3 separate regions of the Homo sapiens genome follow, and regions 1 and 3 are each reported to be linked to region 2. The links are microRNA targets in miRTarBase. Many come from high-throughput screens and were not tested one by one. Region 2 holds a microRNA gene; each other region holds the end of a gene's coding sequence.

What was found. Region 2 holds the annotated microRNA hsa-miR-296-3p (GAGGGUUGGGUGGAGGCUCUCC, at 5,274-5,295, shown strand). A microRNA usually pairs through its seed, bases 2 to 8, with sites in the 3' UTR of a target mRNA and lowers its output. Matches are read on the target gene's strand: a 7mer-m8 pairs with bases 2 to 8, a 7mer-A1 pairs with bases 2 to 7 and ends in A, and an 8mer does both.
Region 1: miRTarBase lists CDKN2A as a target of hsa-miR-296-3p. The part of its 3' UTR that is shown has no 7-base or 8-base seed match.
Region 3: miRTarBase lists NUDC as a target of hsa-miR-296-3p. The part of its 3' UTR that is shown has no 7-base or 8-base seed match.

What each region holds. Positions count from the first base shown.
Region 1 is chr9:21,961,537-21,968,726 of GRCh38, reverse strand. CDKN2A (cyclin dependent kinase inhibitor 2A) reads left to right here. Exons shown (of 3, transcript NM_000077.5): 3 at 485-975. The coding sequence ends at 498. CDKN2A-AS1 (CDKN2A antisense RNA 1) reads right to left here and starts at 1,588. Exons shown (of 1, transcript NR_024274.1): 1 at 973-1,588. RefSeq lists a cis regulatory region at 5,746-5,748 and an enhancer at 5,674-5,818.
Region 2 is chr20:58,815,731-58,822,920 of GRCh38, reverse strand. MIR296 (microRNA 296) reads left to right here and starts at 5,227; the gene lies at 5,227-5,306. It overlaps MIR298 (microRNA 298), which reads left to right and starts at 4,608; the gene lies at 4,608-4,695. It also overlaps GNAS-AS1.
Region 3 is chr1:26,944,865-26,952,054 of GRCh38, forward strand. NUDC (nuclear distribution C, dynein complex regulator) reads left to right here. Exons shown (of 9, transcript NM_006600.4): 7 at 526-609; 8 at 704-822; 9 at 1,266-2,007. The coding sequence ends at 1,317. KDF1 (keratinocyte differentiation factor 1) reads right to left here. Exons shown (of 4, transcript NM_152365.3): 2 at 6,478-7,190; 3 at 5,818-5,892; 4 at 4,698-5,287. The coding sequence ends at 5,205. Among named protein-coding and RNA genes, the nearest start is that of KDF1, 12 kb to the right of the region's middle. RefSeq lists a silencer at 3,374-3,668.

The DNA.
Region 1 (7,190 bases), not on the chromosome of region 2:
AGGGAAGCTACGGGATTCCGCCGAGGAGCGCCAGAGCCTGAGGCGCCCTTTGGTTATCGCAAGCTGGCTGGCTCACTCCGCACCAGGTGCAAAAGATGCCTGGGGATGCGGGAAGGGAAAGGCCACATCTTCACGCCTTCGCGCCTGGCATTGTGAGCAACCACTGAGACTCATTATATAACACTCGTTTTCTTCTTGCAACCCTGCGGGCCGCGCGGTCGCGCTTTCTCTGCCCTCCGCCGGGTGGACCTGGAGCGCTTGAGCGGTCGGCGCGCCTGGAGCAGCCAGGCGGGCAGTGGACTAGCTGCTGGACCAGGGAGGTGTGGGAGAGCGGTGGCGGCGGGTACATGCACGTGAAGCCATTGCGAGAACTTTATCCATAAGTATTTCAATGCCGGTAGGGACGGCAAGAGAGGAGGGCGGGATGTGCCACACATCTTTGACCTCAGGTTTCTAACGCCTGTTTTCTTTCTGCCCTCTGCAGACATCCCCGATTGAAAGAACCAGAGAGGCTCTGAGAAACCTCGGGAAACTTAGATCATCAGTCACCGAAGGTCCTACAGGGCCACAACTGCCCCCGCCACAACCCACCCCGCTTTCGTAGTTTTCATTTAGAAAATAGAGCTTTTAAAAATGTCCTGCCTTTTAACGTAGATATATGCCTTCCCCCACTACCGTAAATGTCCATTTATATCATTTTTTATATATTCTTATAAAAATGTAAAAAAGAAAAACACCGCTTCTGCCTTTTCACTGTGTTGGAGTTTTCTGGAGTGAGCACTCACGCCCTAAGCGCACATTCATGTGGGCATTTCTTGCGAGCCTCGCAGCCTCCGGAAGCTGTCGACTTCATGACAAGCATTTTGTGAACTAGGGAAGCTCAGGGGGGTTACTGGCTTCTCTTGAGTCACACTGCTAGCAAATGGCAGAACCAAAGCTCAAATAAAAATAAAATAATTTTCATTCATTCACTCATTTATTGTCAACATTTATTGAGCACCTATTACAACAATTTCATCGCATGGAAGACAGCATCGTTTCTGACACTGTTGTTTCATGTATCTCTTAGAAAAACGCTGCTATTAGACATCTAACACTATTTATCTTGAGGTGATAAAATATCAAAAGCCGTGTCTCAAGATCGATGAAATGCGGTTAAAATGATGAATAGAAACTCTAGGGGGACCTCATATCGATAGACTCGAGACTGGCACATCTGGAGATCCGTATTTATCCGGCTTCCCCTTCCAGATCACGCGAGGTTTGGGATATTTTGCTCACCAGGCCTCAGCCAGGTAACTGAATCCAGCCAACCCTGGCCCATAGTCTCGGAATCCGACTCGGCTCCCAGTCCCCGCCTCGGCGTTCTGAGACCCCCAGGCTGGGGTTCCAGAGGGCTGTGAGGTTGCGAATGACTGCTGCCAAACCGGAAGGAACTCTGCGGTTCTCTGCCACAGTGGGATTGTTGCAGGCACGCGGCTCAGACTTCACTGAGGTTGGGAGATGCTCCTGTCCACGCTGCCTCATCCCGTGCTGGAGCACTGCACCTCTATTTTTTTTTTTAGGGTACACGCCACATAACATAAAACTAAAAATTTTAAAGAGTAGAATTCAGTGGCATTTAGTACAATGTTATGCAACCATCACTCCTATCTAGCCCAAAACATTTTCGTCAACTGCATAGGAGGCCCCATTAAGCATACCTGTTAAACTCTTCTTGCCTCCAACTCCTGGCAACTACAAAACTCCTTTTGTCTCTATGGATTTACCTATTCTGAATATTTCTTATAAATGGGATCATACAATATGTGACCTTCCGTGTCTGGCTTCTTTCACCAAGTGTAGTGTTTTGGGGGTTCATTCCTGCTGCAGCATGTATCAGTACCTCATTTCATTTTATGGCTGAATCATATTCCATTGTATGAATATACTGGAAATTGCTCGTCTACTCATCCAGTGATGAACATCGAGTTGTTTTTTGGCTTAAAATTATTCATAGTGTTCTCATATAAATATAAATATGTAATTATTATTTTTATCCATATTTATTACATTATTTATATTTTTATATTTTTATTGTATTATAATAATTTTATAATATTATACTATGATAATATAACAGACTGACTCCTATGGTCTGTCAGTGTGCTCTTCCACTGGCGTGCTCCCTTCCGCTGGGGTGCCCCGCTCCACGTCCAGTTCCTCCGATGAGTTCCTCTGGACATAGAGCCGCTTGTGTGTCTGCCTGCTAGGGTCTCAGGGTTTTCATAGGCAAAGGATGGGGGCGTGGCGGGACAGGGTGGTCTTGGGATATGCAACATTTGGGCGTGAAGGAAGGAGTGCCTGTCCTCACCTAGGTCCAGTGGGCACAGGCCCAGGGGAGGGCCCTTACCAGGGACCCGCCTTTGTCTACCCAACACTTCCCTGCCCCTCTTCTCTATCATTGCGTTTCAGTTACCTTTGCCTTGGTTCAGCACTCACTTGGTTGCTGTAAAACTTTCTTACTGTTTCCCAGAGTTCCCACGAAGTCAATTCTGGCAGCTTTTGCTTATTTTTCTGTGTTTCTATATAGGAATGGGCCCTGCGAGCTCACTACTGTGCCACTTTTGCTATTATCTTTTGTTGTTGTTGTTGTTCAATTTGTTTTGTTTTAGGGCAGGATGGTCAAATGCTTATGATGTGCCAATTTCCTGCCTCCATATATCTCCTGTGCCTGGTACGCAGTGCCCATGCCCGGCATCCTCACTTTCTGGGCATCTGTCTGTCAACATTTCTCTGAAGCTCGCTAGCTCTACCACTCAGCTGTCCCCCTGAAAATTTTCTCCACCTTCCCCCGCAGCTGTAGGAAGCTCACCTTCCTCCTTACCCTTCCTCAACCCCACTCCTGTTCTCTCCCTTTTTCCCCCTTCCACCCCCATTTCCCCGACTTCTGCTGGGGGTGGGAGGGATAACCGATTCACAGACATTCCCCTCCCCCTCGCCGCTTCTCGGGAGATTGCTGGTTCGCAGTCCTACGCTCCACTCGCCAGCAGGCTCCGCTGTGGTGTGAGCACCTCCGGGAGCGCAAAGGCGTCCGCTTTGAGGCACTGGGCCTCGGGCCAGGCAGAGGCTATCTCCGGGACCCTTTTATGGAGATCTGCTGTTAAAGCCCACGCGTGTTTCCCGAGCACACTGAGCACACGCATACTGGGCCTGACGACTCCAGGGAGGGACCTGCTCCGGAACCGCGGACTAGACCCGGGTCCCAGAACTACCCGTGGAGGAGGCCGCAGTAACCTCCGAAGCAGGCTGAGAGACTCGGGTGGGCTTTCTCCAGTGAAAAAAAAGAAGCCAGAGGGGAAGGGTAGATGGAGCAGGAAAGAAGGACGGATTCTAAGCATGGCTGTTCGAGGCCCTGAGGCTGCAGAACTGACTGCGGGACTGCGGTTTGGAGGCGGGGACTTTCCAAAACCACGGACGAAAGAAACCTCCCAACCAACCGATTAAGCACGGGGGCTGTGGAGCAGAAGGGCAATAAAAGGCCCTGCCCACCGAAACCTGTAAAAGTTTCCTTTGTAAGCACGCGTCACGAGCGCGGGTGACGAGGCCCAGGCGCGCCCGGGTGCGGCGACCTCGGAGCCCGCGGGACGGGAGAGCAGCCCTTCCTTTGGCCGGGCCTCCAGCACCAAAACTGGCTGGGATCCTTCCTGGGGCCCACGCCAGTGCCACACCCCAAGTACTCTGGATGCAGGCCAGGTGGGAGGGTCTTCACCTCCACCTCCTTCCAGATCTCACGTGTCTCATTTACGTAATAAAGTTCAGGAAATAGCAGAAAACAACTTTTTTTTTTTTTTTTTTTTTTTTGAGACGGAGTCTTTCTCTGTCGCCCAGGCTGGAGTGCAGTGGTGCGATCTCGGCTCACTGCAACCTCCGCCTCCCGGGTGCAAGCGATTCTCCTGCCTCAGCCTCCTCAGTAGCTGAGATTACAGGCGCCCGCCACAACACCTTTTTAGTAGAGACGGATTTTCACCATTTTGGCCAGGCTGATCTCGAACTCCTGACCTCAAGTGGTCCGCCCTCCTCGACCTCCCAAAGTGTTGGGATTACAGGCCTTAGCCACCGTGCCGGTCCAGAAAAGCACATTTAAAAACTACAGATTGATATCCTTGTTGGGCATTGATGCTAAAATCCTTAACAAAATACTAGCTAACAGAATCCAACAACATATCAAAAAATAATCCACCATGACATGATCAAGTGGGTTTCATACCAGGAATGTAGGGATGATTTAACATATGTGATACACCACGAAAACAGAATTAAAAACAAAACATCACATGATCATCTCAATAGATGCAGAAAAAGCATTTGACAAAATTCAGCATCCTGTTATGATTAAAACTCTCAGCAAAATTGGCATACAAGGGACATACCTTAATGTAATAAAAGCCATCTATGAAAACCCACAGCCAACATAATACTGAATGGGAAAAGTTGAAAGCATTTCCTCTGAAAACTGGAACAAGGATGCCCACTCTCACCACTCCTCTTCAACATAGTACTGGAAGTTCTAGCCAGAGCAATCAGATGAGAGAGAAAAATAAAAAGGGTATCCAAATCAGTAAAAAGGAAGTCAAACTGTCACTGTTTGCTGATGATATGATCGTTTACCTTGAAAACCCTAAGGACTCCTCCAGAAAGCTACTAGAATTGATAAAAGAATTCAGCAAAGTTTCTGGATACAAGATTAGTGTATACAAATCAGTAGCTCTTCTATACACAAACAGCGACCAAGCAGAAAATCAAATCAAGAACTTAACCCCTTTTACAGTAGCGGCAAAAAAAAAAAAAAAAAAATCAAATCAAATCAAATACTTAGGAATATGCCTTACCAGGGAGTCAAAAGACCTCTACAAGAAAAACTACAAAACACTGCTGAAACAAATAATAGACAACATACAAATGGAAACATATCCCATGCTCATGGATGAGCAGAATCAATATTGTGAAAATGACCATACCGCCAAAAAAATCTACAAATTCAATGCAATCCCCATCAAAATACCACCATCATTCTTCACAGAATTAGAAAAAACAATTCTAAAATTCATATGAAACCAAAAAAGAGCCTGCACAGCCAAAGTAAGACTAAGCAAAAAGAACAAATGTGGAGGCATCATGCTACCTGCTTTCAAACTATACTATAAAGGCACAGTCACCAAAACAGCATGTACTAGTATAAAAATAGGCACATAGACTGATGGAACAGAACAGAGAACTCAGAAATAAACCCAAATACTTACAGCCAACTGATCTTTGACACAGCGAACAAAAATATAAAACGGGGAAAGGACACCCTTTTAAACAAATGTTGCTGGGATAATTGGCTAGCCACATAATAGGAGAATGAAACTGGATCCTCATCTCTCACCTTATACAAAAATCAACTCAAGATGGATTAAGGACTTAAACCTAAGACCTGAAACTATAAAAATTCTAGACGATAACATTGGAAAAACCCTTCTAGACATTGACTAGGCAAGGATTTCATGACCAAGAACCAAAATGCAAATGCAATAAAATCAAAGGTACGTAGCTGGGACCCAGTTAAACTAAAGAGTTTTTCCACAGCAAAAGGAACAGTCAGCAGAGTAAATAGACAACCCACAGAGTGGGAGAAAACCTTCACAATCTATGCGTCTGACAAAGGACTGATATCCAGAATCTACAATGAACTCAAACAAATCTGTAAGAAAAAAAAACAAACAATTTCATCAAAAAGTGGGCTAAGGACATGAAAAGACAATTCTCAAAAGAAGATATACAACTGACCAACAAACATGAAAAAATGCTCAACATCACTAATGATCAGAGAAATGCAAATCAAAACCACAATGCTATACTCCTGCAAGAATGGCCATAATCAAAAAATCAAAAAACAGTAGATGTTGGCATGGGTGTGGTGAGCAGGGAACACCTTTACACCACTGGTGGGAATGTAAACAAGTACAGCTACTATGGAAAACAGTGTGGAGATTCCTTAAAGAACTAAAAGTAGAACTACCATTTGATCCAGCAATCCCACTACTGGGTTTCTACCCAAAGGAAAAGGAATCATTATTTGGAAAAGATACTTGCATACGCATGTTTATAGCAGCACAATTCACAATAGCAAAATCGTGCAACTAACCCAAAAGCCCATCAATCAATGAGTGTATAAAGAAACTGTGGTATATATATATATATATAATGGAATACTACACAGCCATGAAAAGGAATGAATTAACAGCATTTGCAGTGGCCTGGATGAGAATGGAGACTACTATTCTAAGTGAACTACCTCAGGAATGGAAAACCAAGCATTGTATGTTCTCACTGATATGTGGGAGCTAAGCTATGAGAATGCAAAGGCATAAGAATGATACAATGGACTTTGGAGACTTACGGGGAAGAGATGGAGGGGGCGAGGGATAAAAGACTACAAATATGGTTCAGTGTATCCTACTCAGGTGAAGGGTGAACCCATATCTCACAAGTCACCACTAAAGAACTTACTCATGTAACCAAACACCACCTGTACCCCAATAACTTATGAAAAATAAAAAAATAAATAAATGGGCAGCATTTGCTATCCTATGAAATTGGAAAAAATAGAACAAAATAAATGGATACATCATCATTTCCCTTTTCCACTATTTGAACTGTTCTTTGAGTGAGTTGTCTTACAACATTTCAGTAGTTTTTTCTGAATTCTCAACCGTCTCTCAAATAGCTAACATCATAATTGACTGTTGCTACAATTCTATCTATAGACTGTTTGGTCTTAGAGAACTATTTCTCTAGGGAATAGAAGCCAAAGAACAGATCAGAGAACATTGCTGTTACATATTCTGTCTATGGATTACTATTTGAGATTAAGTTGTTACCTCCATTAATATCTTTAAGGCATTTCTGAAGAAATTGAAAATAAGCATTGCGAAATCCCTGTCTTGATTCAGAAGGATAATGTAGCTGCCCCAGAGCCTGTTTGCATTCATTACTAAAAAAAGATGTATGAAATCTGGAAGGAAGTAATGCGCAGAGCTCTAACTCTGTAGGTAATATTCTCATTCCTTACTTCATTCAAGAAATAATCAGTGGCCACCTACTGTGTGCCAGATATTGTGCTAGGTAATAACAGTAAAGGACTAAACGTCTATCTCAAAGGGAAG
Region 2 (7,190 bases):
GAGGAGCCAGGTCAGAGCCCAGCCCTAGGTCGGGAACACGTAGGGAGCAGAGCTGGTGGTTCAGGGCCCTGTTGTGGCATCAGAGAGATGTGAGCGCTAACCTCAGCACCCTGCTTTCCACTCCGGGGCCTTGGGGCGACTTATTTATCTGCCAAGGCAGTTTCCTGACTTCAGGGAAGGGGCCAGGAGAGAATTAAGTAAGAACAAGCAGCACCTGACACTCAGAAAAGTGTCCCTAAATGTTCGCCACCTTTATTAATAGTACAAATTAATGGGTGACCAGCCTCCATTGTGGGATGGAGCCGGAAGCTGCTCTCCAGGCCTGCTCTCACCCAGATACATGGTATGTTTCGACCACACAGGAGTTCTTTTAAGGATGAATGATGATGACCGCCAACGTTTAGGTGTCCGCAGATTTTACAGAAGCCTTTGGCCATTTGACTTCTCCTGGTCTAGTGGAGCCTCTAGTTTTCTGGGGCCTGCCTCTTCCTGTCCATAGACAACCGTAGCTGGGGTGCGGCCGCCCCCTTTCGGCCAGCAGCACACACACCCCTGTGCCTGCCACCACTTGTGCCTGTCACTCATCTCTGAGTGGGGCCTGGCCTCCTTAGGCATTTGCACTTGTTCTCCCTGCAGTAAAGTGGAGCTATTATTATCTTATAAGAAACAAGGGTCATCATCAGAATTGGGCAGGGACCCAGCAACTGAGTTCTGGCCGGGGCCTCCTTGCCTTTGCTGTGACATTGGTCTGGAAGACCTGGGCTGATGGATGAGCATTGAATGGCCGGGTCTGGGGAGCCATCATGGCTGCCTGCCTTCCTCCTGGTGGGCCCCTTAGTAAGCTGAGCAGAAACACAAAATGGCTAGGGCAGTTACCATAGCCACTTAACGTCTGTGCATCCCTCGGCCTCCCTCATTCTCGTCGGGATAGGGATGACTTAGGAAAGCCAGAGGAGGCCCAGGCTGCTATGAAACCTGGGCCTTGCTTTTCAGCACAAGGATTTCAAGAGGAGAGGAGGTGAGGGAGGAGGGGAGTTTCTGTTGGGGCTGTTGTGGGCCTCAGGCGGCCCCTGAGTTAATCCGTATTCGTATTCAGAATTCCCTCCTTTTCCTTAGTGGGTCAGAGTTCTCTCTTGCTCATCCAGGCCTCAGAGAAGAATCCATGGTAGTTGTGACCACAGCTAGGCCTTAACTCCTTCAGAGCCATGTACATGAAGGCTCAGAAGATCCCCTCATCTTCTGAAGAAGTGTGAGTCTCCTCCTGTAGGCTTCCAAGGGACGCTAGGGTTAGCCATACTTGCACAGCCTGCCCCACACTCAGGCTTCTTGGCACAGAGAAGCCCTTCCTCTTACTGATTTATGGTGCCTACCATGTTCTAGGCATTAGAGAAATGCATTAATTTACTCTTCATAGCAAACATATGGGAAAACTGAGGTACGCACAGGTCAGATAGCTTGCCCAAGGCCACACAGCAGGAAAATCGTGGAGTCCGGATTTGAACTCCAGTGGCTGGTCAGGCTCCAGAGGTCGCCTTTCAAATGCTGCCTGGAAAATGATGGAGCTGATGGAGGAGTCCGAGGTGATGGCTCTGGTGAGTCAGGAGCCTGCCAAGTCACAGGAGCTGGGGAAAGAGCACACTGGACAGAGGGGACAGCCAGTGGAAGGGCCCTGAGGTGGGAAAGAGCTGGCCATGAGCTGTAGGGAAGCAGGAAACCAGTCTGGCTGCAGGAAGTGAGCAGGGGCCAGGGAAGGAGCTGGGGTAGCTGAGGAGGCAGCACCATAAGGGCAGCCCACGGCCATGGCACTGGGGTCTGATTGCAAGTGCAGCGGGAAGCCCTGAGGCTTCTGAGCAGGGCCCTGCTGGCTTGAAGGTCTCCCTGACTAGGAGATGGGATTCTTGTGGCAAGAAGAGAGCGGGGAGAGCAGGAGCTGAGCTGCCCCACATTGGGTAGCTGGGGTCTTTTCACTGAAGGGGATCTGATATGGTTTGGCTCTGTGTCCCCACCCAGATCTCATCTTGAATTGTAACTCTCACAATTCCCACGTGTCATGGGAGGAACTGGGTGGGAGGTGATTGAAGTATGGGGGTGGGTCTTTCCTGTGCTGTTCTCATGATAGCGAGTCTCATGAGATCTGATGGTTTTAAAAAACGGGAGTTTGCCTGCGCAAGCGCTCTCTCTCTTTGCCTGCTGCCATCCATGTAAGATGTGACTTGCTCCTCCTTGCCTTCTGCCATGATTGTGGGGCTTCCCCAGTCACATGGAACTGTAAGTCCAATTAAACCTCTTTCTTTTGTAAATTGCCCAGTCTCAGGTTTGTTTTTATCAGCAGTGTGAAAACGGACTAATACAGGGTCCATCTGGGAGAGGCTGCCTTTCTCTGAGGCCTCTGGCTTGGCAGTGTAGAGAAGGTTCACTAGTGCTTCTGGAATCTTCCTTGGCCCTTTGGGACTCAGCCTATAGTCAGAGCTGGTTCCTTAGGCCTTAGGTGGGGCACCCTTGGAGAGCTCCCTCGGGTAGGTGTCCAGGTGCCAGGTATGGCTCCGGTTACTGTGGTGCCTCCCTCCCTTCGTCTACCTGGTGCTTCTAGAGGCTCGGCTCAGCCTCGTCTTGGCAGCTGGGCCAGGAGGCAGGGCTCTGTGGGTTTCCCATGTATATTTCTTGATAGGTGAGAAAGTGAGCCCCACCTGTGTGGCTCAGCGGTCAGCACCTAAGGCCGCATCTCCAGTTCCACGACAGAAACACCAGGTCATGTGCATGGGTGGCTGGCGCACACCATCAACACCGTGAAGGCATCTCTTTGCCATTCCTGGTGCCCCCACTGGAGCGGGCGTCTGAACTCTGGAGATTGAGAACCTGGGGGCTCTGGTGGGGCACAGAGTGCCCAAGCCCCTCCCCACTAGATGGCACGGCCGCAGAGGCAGTACGGATGAGCATTCAGCACCCCTTTTCTGGGAGGGTCACCTGGGGCGGGGTGCGAGGACCCCTTTGCCCTGGGCACCTGTTGGACCTGAGTCCGGGTCCCAGCTGTTCTACCTCACACTGAGGTCGTGGTCACCTGTGTGGGTCTGGGTTTTTTGTCCGTGACAAAGGTTGGGACCAGAGGTAGATGGGTTTGCCTGCTCTATTGTTTCATGATGGAAACAATCCTGGTTGGTTGCCTGGTTTCTGCTTGGGTTCCCATTCCTTGCCCCGGCCCTACAGGATCAGTGGAGCACCATAGCCCTGCCTCCTTTCTCTGGCCAGCCAGAGGGCTTCAGAAAAGGCTTATCTAAGCCTGGCTTCTTGCCCTCTGTTCTTGAGGGCCCTGAAGAATTTGACTCTGGCAGATGGCTTCTCTCAGATCAGACACAAAGGCCTTGGAGATTGGGACTCCACACCCATTTCATTGAAACCTGCTCTCCCCCCATCAGAAAAAGGGCCATGTTTTCAAAACCATAACTGCTTCTCTCTTAAATCAACAATAAACAACAGCCTAAAGATTGCCCGTGAAAGTAAGTTCCACTGATGGCCGTTCTGGCCGTTGGAAGCAAGATATCAAGTTGGAGTGTGACCGCAGGCGATCATGCCGCAGGTGAGTGTGTGTGCGCCTGGTTTCATTTCTGTTGTTAATCCTTTGCCCTGTTTTTCTCTTTGTTTTTATTCCAAACCTGTCTGCTCCCAAGGGTCCCTGTCTGCTTCCAAGGGTCCCTGGAACCTTCTGCAGCTGTGCCTCTCCAGAGCTCCGCCTCATTAGTGCCACGTTCCTGGTTTGAAAACCATAGTACTTCAACCTCTTCTAGATGGGAGTTAACCTTTGCCCTCTGAAAGAAAGGTTTGATAAGCAAAGAGAGTTTGGTGAGCAAGATCCTTGAGGTAAGAGCTGATCTCTGACGTCCGCTGGGAACTGGCTGCTCTGCAGGTTTCTGTATCACATTTTCTGCACATGTCCATTAGAATTGGAGATGGGGCGTATCTAGTGTTGAATAAAGGCCCGGCAGGCCCTCCCAGATGCACCCTGTCAGACAGAGCCTACTGTGGATTCTTTAGAAATGGCTTGACTCATTCTTGGTGGCGACCACACCACCCACAGGCACCTAAAATGAAAGGATTTTTGTTAGCTGGTTACCACCAAACCACCTCAGGCAATACGTGGGAGACTCCAAACCAGCTGCTGTTAAAAAAAAAAAAAAGGCAGCAGAGCAGTCATAGAACAGACCCTTCTTACTGCTGCATACAAGATGATCCCATGGAATGCAGGCAGCCACAGCTTTGTCCACATGTGCTCTGTGTATCTGGGGCTGCTAGGCTGGTTAGATTTGTGGTCTTCTTCCTCCTGTGGAGGACCCTAGAGAGAGCCAGCCTGAGCCCTCACCGTTGTTCCTTCCCCGGCAGCACTTACAGAATGATCCTCTAAGACCTCCCCTCCAGCCCTAGCTGGGTTCCTAATTTTCCAGCTATTTAATATCTTCTTTATGTCTCAGTGAATGTTCCCAGGCAGAGTAGCCAGACAGACTCATACTGACAGTTCTCAACAGCCAGTCCCATCCTCCTAAAGATCTCCAGAATCAGCCACATGGACCTGATGCTAGAGGCCTGTCAGCACTGGGGGACCCGGGAGAAGCAGCTCAGGTCTTCAGCAGAAGCAGGGAGGTTCTCCCAGTGGTTTTCCTTGACTGTGAGGAACTAGCCTGCTGCTTTGCTCAGGAGTGAGCTGCCGGCTCCCCTTTGATGTGCTGCGTCTGTTCAGAACTAGGCAGGGGTGCTTCACCGTGGCAGCACTTGAGTTAGGCAGTGGTTCATGGACTCTTCTCCCAGGGCCCCACACAAAACACTGTTAGCACAGACCTGCCACTCAGATCAAGGTGGCCAGCAGAGCCATCAGAGAATAGCCTTCAGAAGATGAATGGCAAGGCCAGCCGGCAGCACGTGAGGCCAGGGCAGAGACGCAGTGAACCGTTCCATGGCGCCCCGAGCCTGCTGCCAAGGCCTCCTTGGAGCTGAGATGGAGGCGGGGTGGCTGAGAGGCAAGCTGGATGTGCATGTTTGGGAAGAGGGCTCCGTAGAAAGTGCTGTAGGGGCCTTGGCTGGGGACCACGTGAGCCCTTGTGCGGAGAGGGCCTGTGTCTGTGGATCTGGGGTCCACCACAGGCCACTGAGATGGGACAGGGCTGGGAGGATTGAGGAGGGAAGATCCTGAGTGAAATTGTGAAATCAGGCCCAGCCTCATGTGGGAGGTGAGGAGAAAGGACCCTTCCAGAGGGCCCCCCCTCAATCCTGTTGTGCCTAATTCAGAGGGTTGGGTGGAGGCTCTCCTGAAGGGCTCTGAAGAGCGCTGCACCCGCAGCTGTGTGCCAGGAGTGGAGACAGGACAGTCGATACAAGAGGGGCCCCTGTCATGTCAGCTGCTGAGTCCCCTGGGGCGGCCGGGCACTGGGGAATGGTGAACTCGCCGTGCCGCGCCTCTGCCACAGTCTCCCGTGGGTCCCCACTGCCGGGAGTTTTACCTACCTCCCACCCTCAGCCACGAGCACCTGCAGGATGCGGTGCCATCCTCGCCGGTGCCCGCTCCCCTTCCGGAGGCTCTCTCCACCCTCACTGACGCCTCCTCGGGAAAGCCCCCGCTCCTTCCCCGACCTCACAGCATGCCAGGTCTGGGGCTTCCGCTGGGGGGCTTACCTGTTTTCCACCCCTGCTAGACTGGGAGCTCCAGGGCAAGGCCGTAGCTGCCTTGCGGATTGTTACGTTGTCCAGCTTGTCTCCACACGTGATACCCAGCAGGTGCCTAATAAACTTGTGTAGAAAGAGTGGTGGATGTTTGCTCTTGTATTTACTCTTCATAGAGCCCAGCTCTGCTTGCTAGAGTCCTCGAAGCAAGTGCGCAGTGTCTGACGGTCTTGGGTTGCTTCTGACTCATGGTGGCTGCTTGGGGGTCATGCTGGAAACATGGCACCCTCAACTCCTGCGTGGAACCAGTTGCCCCCACTGTGATTCCTCTTGCTGCGGCTGGCCCTGCCTTCATGGCATTAGCGCAGCGGGGAGTTGCGGGCTCACTGTCTTAACACCTGTCTCCCCCACCAGACTAAACCCCAAAGGGCAGAACTCTCTCATACACTTAGGACGGAGCAGGTCTCAGGTTATTGCTGGACGGACCAATGGATGAGTGGATGGACAGAGCAAAAAGATGAAAAGACAGGAAGGCAACTGGGGTGTGACAGGCAGGGTGGCCTGACGCTCCCTGTGTGGACAAGACTTGGTGGGAGGTGCCGGGCATGGCTAGGAGGACTTGGGGTGCAAAGTGTCCCCACATCTGTCCTGAGGGCAGAAGCAAGGGTGAGCCTCCCTCCTGCTAGAGCTGGCGGAGTCTCCAAAATAGAGTCCGGACCTGCAGGAACAGTGGCCCTTCCCAGTGCAAGAACGTCACTCAGAGTTGAAAGTTCTGGGGTCTCAGGGACCCCTGAAGTCCATTCTTGAGCCCTTCCCGTGGCTGTGGCCTCCCCTTAGGCAGGGGAAAGGGGGCCAGTGGGGAGCTTCCCCAGGGGCCTCTCTGCAGGAGGCCGCTGGGCACATGGTGGCCCCGCGCTGGGCGCTGTCAGCAGAAGTGCCTGGATCCAGACCCTGGTGGAGACAGCAGGCCAGGAAACCAGTGGCCCCTCTGCCCCCCACTGGGGCCCCATGAGTTACACCAGCCAGGCCCCACAGCTGAGGTACCAGGCGGAAAAGGCCTTGTGTGAATGGGGCAAGAGGCCAGGGGCGCTGGGGAAGGCCAGGAAGAGAGCAGAGAGGCCTTCACTCACACGCAAGCGCACGCCCCAGGGGCTCAGGCCTTGAGACATAGCTTGAGGTGGGGGTGTGGGGGGCTCCCTGCTTGTTCCCGCTAAGGCTGGCACCCCAGCCCTCTCTTTTGGGTGTCCCCATGCCTGGGCTGTGCCGTAGCACAGTTCATGGGAGCCCTGCCCCCAGGCCCTGCAGCCCTCACTGCCCCCAGCCCTGCTGCAGGGTTGGCCTCCCTTCTGTCACCCCACCTGCCACTCGCCCCTCTGTCTCGGGAAAACCCACTGTGATTCCTTTCCAAGGCTGACCTTCCTTCTGGTGGCTTCTGCCCCATTCCAGCTCCCCTTTCCCCATGGGATCATTAGACACCGAGCCCTCCCGAGGGCCCAGCCATGTGGGTGGAACACGGCAGTCACAGAAGAGGGAAGAGCCCTTTC
Region 3 (7,190 bases), not on the chromosome of region 2:
AGCCCCGTCTCTACTAAAAATACAAAAATTAGCCAGGTGTGGTGGTGCATGCCTATAATCCCAGTTACTCGGGAGGCTGAGGCCGGAGAATTGCTTGAACCCGGGAGGCAGAGGTTGCAGTGAGCCGAGATGGTGCCACAGCACTCCAGCCTGGACAAGAAGAACAAGACTCCATCTCAAAAAATATATATATTTATTTTCTTCCCATTTTAAATCTGGAATACTGCTTTGTGTCTTAAGACTCAGCCCGAGTGTCACTTTCAAACTTTTCTCCCTCCACCCTGGATGAATATCTCCCTTTCTGCTTTCTTCTTTCCCTTATCACACTGATTTGTAACTCTTTGCCTCTGTGTCTCCCCTAGCTGCAGGAAGGGCACAGTCTTGTACCTCTGGATCCAGTGTAGGCCTGCAAGGGTCTCAGGTGCAGGATGTGGATGGGAGAGAGTTTGGTTGTGAAAGGGTTAAGGGGTGATTCCTGGTGCACAGAGCAGGCCACCTCCCACCCTCTGGTTGTTCTCTTCACAGATCAATAAGATGGAGTGGTGGAGCCGCTTGGTGTCCAGTGACCCTGAGATCAACACCAAGAAGATTAACCCTGAGAATTCCAAGGTGAGCCCTGGCTGGTTGGGGGAGCTTCAGCAGGAAGGTGAGGGGCCTCGTTGTTTCCAGAGCTTCACCGATTCCTGTCACTGCCTGCCCTCAGCTGTCAGACCTGGACAGTGAGACTCGCAGCATGGTGGAAAAGATGATGTATGACCAGCGACAGAAGTCCATGGGGCTGCCAACTTCAGACGAACAGAAGAAACAGGAGATTCTGAAGAAGTGAGCAATTCAGAGACGGGGTTGGGGGACCGTGGGTGCCTGGGGGCTTAGACTTCGGTGACAGCAGTGAGTGGATCACTGCGCTGCCTCAGGAGCTGCCCTGCCCCCTTTCCAGCCATGTTTATGGCTTTATGGCTTTGGCTTGCCTACTCTTGTCATTTGCTGAGGTCATCTTGAGGGCAAGGCCGGCTCATGGTGCATGATAGGAGGGAAGGGGTAACAGGCGGTCATTGCCACCTACAGGAAAACAATGCCAGTGTTGGTGCCTCAGCTTCCAGCCTCGGGACTCAAATGCGTCTCAGATACCCTGGGCCCTGCTCCTGCCCAGCCTGGCTTGGTGTTGCTGAGGTCTAAAGAGATTAGACTTGACACGGGGGTGCTGGGAGAAGGGACAGCTTTAGAAGAGAAGGATGAGCTGTTTCATCTTGCTTCCGTTTCTCCAGGTTCATGGATCAACATCCGGAGATGGATTTTTCCAAGGCTAAATTCAACTAGCCCCTGTTTTTTCCTCCCTGAACTCTTGGGGCTGAGCTGCAACCACCCAACTTTCTTTCCCACTCTTCTCTGGGACTTGTGGGCCTCAGGGCTTGGGGCAGGCATGGGACTGGCCCAGGCACACAGGTCCCGGGGCATCAGGAGAAAGGCTGGGTCTTGGGACCTTGTCCTCCCCAGTTGGCCTACTGTTACACATTAAAACGATTTGCCCAGCTCCTTCTGTGTCCTCTCTTGCCTCTGGCCTTTCTCTGGGGCACAGGCCTCTTACGGCTGCTGCTGGGAACTGGGAGTTTGGCTTCTAGCCCAGATTCTGCCATGTGACCTAGGGCACATCCTTGCCCCTCTCTGGGCCTCAGTTTCTCATTACTTAAAGATTAAAACAAGGCTTGGCCGGGTGTGATGGTTCATGTCTGTAATCCCAGCACTTTGGGAGGCTGAGGGGAGCAGATCACCTGATGTCAGGAGTTTGAGACCAGCTTGGCCAACATGGAGAAACCCAGTCTCTACTAAAAATACAAAAATTAGCCGGGTGTGGTGGTGCACACCTGTAATCCCAGCTACTCGGGAGGCTGAGGCAGGAGAATCGCTTGAACCCGGGTGGCGGAGGTTGCAGTGAGCCGAGATTGCACTACTTCACTCCAGCATGGGTGACAGAGACTCCATCTCAAAAAAATAAATAAATAAAACAAGGCTTTTAGTCTATGTATGTTTCTGAGCAAAGGTTGAGTTTTTCTGGCTACAGAGACCAGAACACATGTCAGATTCTCAAAGGGGCGCATGACCCAAAAAAGTTTTAAGACCGCTGGACTTGTTGATCTGATTTTTACTTCCCACTGCAGCGGGTCTGCCCTCTAGCCGTGAATCAAGTATTCTTGAAACTAGAGACTATTGTGTCCCAGGGCAGAAGAGCAGCAAGGGCCAAGGTGACACTGCCTGGCTCAGGGGAGGGGTACCAGGAGGACAGCTCAGGCCTCAGATCTGGTGTGTGTGGTACAGGGACCTTACCAGGAGGACAGAGTAAAGTCCAGTGAGGCTCCATTGTTTGTATCTCAGACCTGGACCTCTGCAGATTCTAGGCCTTCTCAAAGCCAGCTCCCAGGGCTGAAGAGGTGCTCCCCTTTGCTCAGATCCAGCCCACAGAGCTGACCCCTGCCCCACTTTGGCTAGAGAGTGGAGGTCAGAATGCTTGGGCCACAGAGGTTATAGCAAGAATGTCTAGGTTGACTTGCTGTGAGTGCTTAGTTCTTTGGCTCCTAAATTTCTGGAACACAGATGTTTTTTTTAGAATTTGAGAATAGCTGGGCACAGTAGCTCACGCCTGTAATCCCAGCACTTTGGGAGGCCAAGGCAGGCAGATCACTTGACGTCAGGAGTTCGAAACCAGCCTGGCCAACATGGAGAAACTCCATTTCTGCCAAAAATATAAAAAGTTAGCTGGGTGTTGGCCGGGTGCGGTGGCCCAGGCCTGTAATCCCAGCACTTTGGGAGGCCAAGGTGGGTGGACCACAAGGTCAGGAGATCGAGACCATCCTGGCTAACATGGTGAAACCCTGTCTCTACTAAAAATACAAAAAATTAGCCGGGTGTGGTGGCGGGCGCCTGTAGTCCCAGCTACTTGGGAGGCTGAGGCAGGAGAATGGTGTGAACCCAGGAGGTGGAGCTTGCAGTGAGCAGATATCGCGCCACTGCACTCCAGCCTGAGCAACAGAGTGAGACTCCGTCTCCAAAAAGAAAAGAAAAAGCTGGGTGTGGTGGCACGTGCCTGTAATCACAGCTACTTGGGAGGCTGAGGCAGGCGAATCACTTGAACCTGGGAGGCTGAGGTTGTGGCGAGCCAAGATCGTGCCACTGCACTCCAGCCTGGGCAATAGAGCGAGACTCTGTCTCGGGGAAAAAAAAAATTCAGAATAGCTTGTTAAAGATTTCAGAGAGGCTATGCAGTACATAGCTTTGTCTGTTTTCCAAACTTGCTAAACCTTTTTTTTTTTCCTGGGAATGCAAATAATGGTTTAAAAGGCTAGGTTTGGAAAATGGTGCTCTAGGGCTGAGGCTTGGTTCGTGGTGTCACTCTACCGCTCTGTACTCCTGTTCTGCCCCGTGGTCATTTTAATCTTTTGGAGGCCTTGACCCGGATGCGACAGCAGAGCCTGGAGTTAGAACTGAACCCTATGTTCATAGCCCTGAGAGATCATCCTGTTTCCCTTAGGAAACTGGACAAACAAGTACAATTTGTCTAGTAGTTACTTTCCAAAGGGTGCCTTTCGGAACAATAAAAAGGGCGGTGGGGGCAGCAGGTCAGATGGGAGCTGGAGTGGGGGGATCCTCAACACTTTCTAGCTTGTTTGTTAATTAAGAATGGGCTGGTGGGCCTGCCCCGGCCTCTCTGCTGAAAGAGGACCAGTAGATAAGCCTGTGTGTGAGGAGCAGCCAAGTAGGATCCTTCTGAACTCATCTGGGCTCTGCTACCTAATGAAGGGATTCTGCATCTGCCCCAGCAAGGCCAGAGCCACAGTTACTAACTGCGTGTCCCACTAAGTTCCTTGACCTCACTGTGAGCCCCACGTTTCCTCTCTGTGAAAGAATAATGTCCTTTCTCCAACGTTATTGGAGAGGCCAAGAAGATACTGGTGAAAACCACAGTGCTGGCCAGGCGCGGTGGCTCACGCCTCTAATCCCGGCACTTTGGGAGGCCGAGGCGGGCGGATCACCTGAGGTCAGGAGTTCGAGACCAGCCTGACCAACATGGAGAAACCCTGTCTCTACTAAAAAATACAAAATTATTTGTGCGTGGTGGCGCATGCCTGTAATCCCAACTGCTCGGGAGGCTAAGTTAGAAGAATCGCTTGAACCCGAGAGGCGGAGGTTGCAGTGAGCCAAGATTGTGCCATTGCACTCCAGCAGCTTGGGCAACAAGAGCAAAAACTCCATCTCAAAAAAAAAAAAAAAAAAAAAAAAACCACAGTGCTCTGTTACTACCACAGAGAGAGTGGAAGGGGAGCAGCAGGTCCAAGGCTGGGTAGGGCCAACAAATGATCAAGGCTTTGGGGAAACTGTGGGCTGGGCAGAAGCAGGCCAGCCTGCAGGCAGTGGACTGGGAGAGCAGAGGCAGTTCGGACAGGCCTCCCTAGAAGAACCTCTCAAACAATGTCAGAAACCATTTATCCAACCTTTCTCAGGCACAGACTCTGTGCTTGGTTCTTTATCTCCTGGAACTCACAGTGAACCTGAAATGGGGGCAGCATTACTCCCATTTTATCCTTCCTACTTTAACTGCAGGGCACTAAGCCAGGCTGGACACATATCCTGTCTCCTGCTCTGGGCAGCAGTTAAGTGAGGCAGATGGGAGAGAAAGGACAGCCAAGAAAGCAGGCAGATACCAATTACCTTTGTACTTACAAACTGTGGTCATGTTAAGATACAGAACATCAGCCAAGAACCAGAACCAACTCCTTAACATAACATAGAGTGGGCCCTGCCCACCCCCCAATACAATACATTTAAGATAAGCTTCTTTTAACTGTTGAATTACCCCAGGGAGGGAGAAGTTTGCATGATTGGTTAGGGTGGCAATAGGGGGATGGAGTCAGGGTTCACTCCCAGAAGGTAATGCCTAACTCCTTACTTTCCATGATCAGGCCACCTGAAGACCATGAGCAGGAAGGAAGGGGCCCTGGCAGGGATCAGACCAGCTGGGGATGCAAGGAGATGTAGATCCCATGGCCCAGTGAAATGCACATGGTCCAGGAACCCAGTCAGCCAAGGCAGGAGGAGCCAGAGTGGGCACTGCTTCAGGTCTAAGCCTCTCCCACAGGGGTTCCTGGTCCCCCTCTTCATTCTGTAGGCCATGCTTCTCCCAGAAAGGGTGTGGCAGCTGGGCCTGGCAGGGGTTAGCAGTACACCTGGAGCAAGGGTGCCCCCGACGAGTCTGTGTCGGTGCCCTGGAAGGATGAGTCATGGCTTGCTGGGTACCCTGGTAGGAAGGAGAGGAGAGGAGGAAACAGGCTCAGGGGAAGGAGCTCATCCAGATCCCATGACCAGGGAGAAGCCTGCTGAGAAGGAGCAGAGTGGGACTTGAGCCTGGGTCAGTCTGATCCTGGCTGGATGACCCACTCAGTTTATTGACCTCTCTGAGCCCTAGCCTCCCTTTCTGTAAAAGGATAATGATTCCACTCCCAGGGGGTTGTTGTCAAGGGCAAGAAGACCGCAACAGAACCACACGGGTGTCTTTCCAGCACCATGCTGGATGGCTCCCCACCCACTACTTTCCTAGTCATCTGGGCTTGAAGGTTGGGGTCTGATCACTTTCAGCTTGCCTGTTCTGGGCACCTGCACCCACTTTAAGCCAGCTTGCTAGATGGAGACAGGTCTGTGGCTGCTTAGGTCCCCGTCCCTTTTTGATGTCATCCTCATCACCCCAAAAGAAAGCTGGGAGAGCAGCAGGTGAGGGGCCCCTAGGGTAGTCCCCCACCCTCCACACCCCTCATTAGGTCAAGACCACACCTGGAGCTCCATAAGGCCTCAGCTTCCGGGCGATGGCATCTGCAGTCGTCTCCTGGGAGATCTGCACTGTCAGCTCTAGGGAGGGAACGTGAGGCAAGCAGTGGTCATTAGCACGTTCTTTCAACCCTATTTCCTACTTCTGTTCCCAGCCCGATGAGGGAGGAGCCACTCACTCCTGGGCAGGGCTAGAAAAATAATGCTTAAAGACAGAGACATAGACAACGTGTGCATGCGCAGAGTGATGGATGAGTGGGAGTTTTGGTTAGCCCAGAACAGGTCAGAGGCCCAAATTCATGTGGGTCCCTAGGTCCTGTTCACCAGACCAGGCCTAGAAGCTACTCTGGCAGGAGACAGCAGAGGAGAGGAGCCTTTTGGGTAAACTTGTTGAATGCAGAGGGAACCTTGACCTTTCTGGGGACAGCAGCGATGGCCAGAGAGCTCTCCCAGGGTCTGCATGCTTCTCTCAGCCTTGCTCGGACCTCACCAGGAAGGGCCAGAGTGGGAGCTGGGGAGAGGGGATGCAAGAGTTGACAGAAAGGAGGAGGAAAGGCAGGGACTGGCTGAGGGGTAGACCCACAGTGACTAAAGACCCCATTCCAACCCTCCCCTGGCCAGAGCCTCCCCTACTCTGCCCCTCAGCCCCATGGGGCCCCCACCTACCATCCTGGCTGAGACCTGAGCCCACCATGGTCTCATGGCCACTGTCAGGGGCAGCAGCGGTTGGGGCAGCAGCCCGAGTTGAACGACCCTCCGAGGTCTGTGGGCGAGCACGGCTCTTTCGGGTACTAATGCGAATGATGCCGCGTACCAGGCGGCCCTCAGCATCCTGCTCATCCAGGTGGTAGTCCTGCGTGATGCTGCTGATAAGGTCCGAGATCTTACTGGTCTTCTCCAGGAACACAGTGTCTGATGTGCACTTGGCCAGCTCATCGATCTGGTGTACGCTGAACAGCTCTGTCAGCTTCTTGAAGATGAGCACATCAATTTCTCGGCTCGACATGGAGCCACTGCCCATCTCCGGCAGGTCCAGGTCCGACTCATGGAAAGAATAGTACTCCTCGGAGCCACGAGGACTACTGGCAAAGGTGCTGGGCAGGCTGTGTCGCATGGGTGGGGGATCGGCCAGTGGCTCCTTGCAGCAGGAGTCCGCATCAGGGGCTGGGGAGGTGGCCCTCGGGTAGGGATACACAGGGATGCCTTTGAGCTTAACATCGGGGTAGCTGAAGCTGCTGCCCATGGTTGACTTGAGCCGCTGGCCATCCCGCCGGCTGGGGGGTGCACGATCAGGGCTGGGGGGCACTCCATTGTGCTCCTTGGCCCAGTTGGCTTCAGCAGTCCCCTCAGTGGAGTCCTCAGTAGACAGGCAGGGGCTG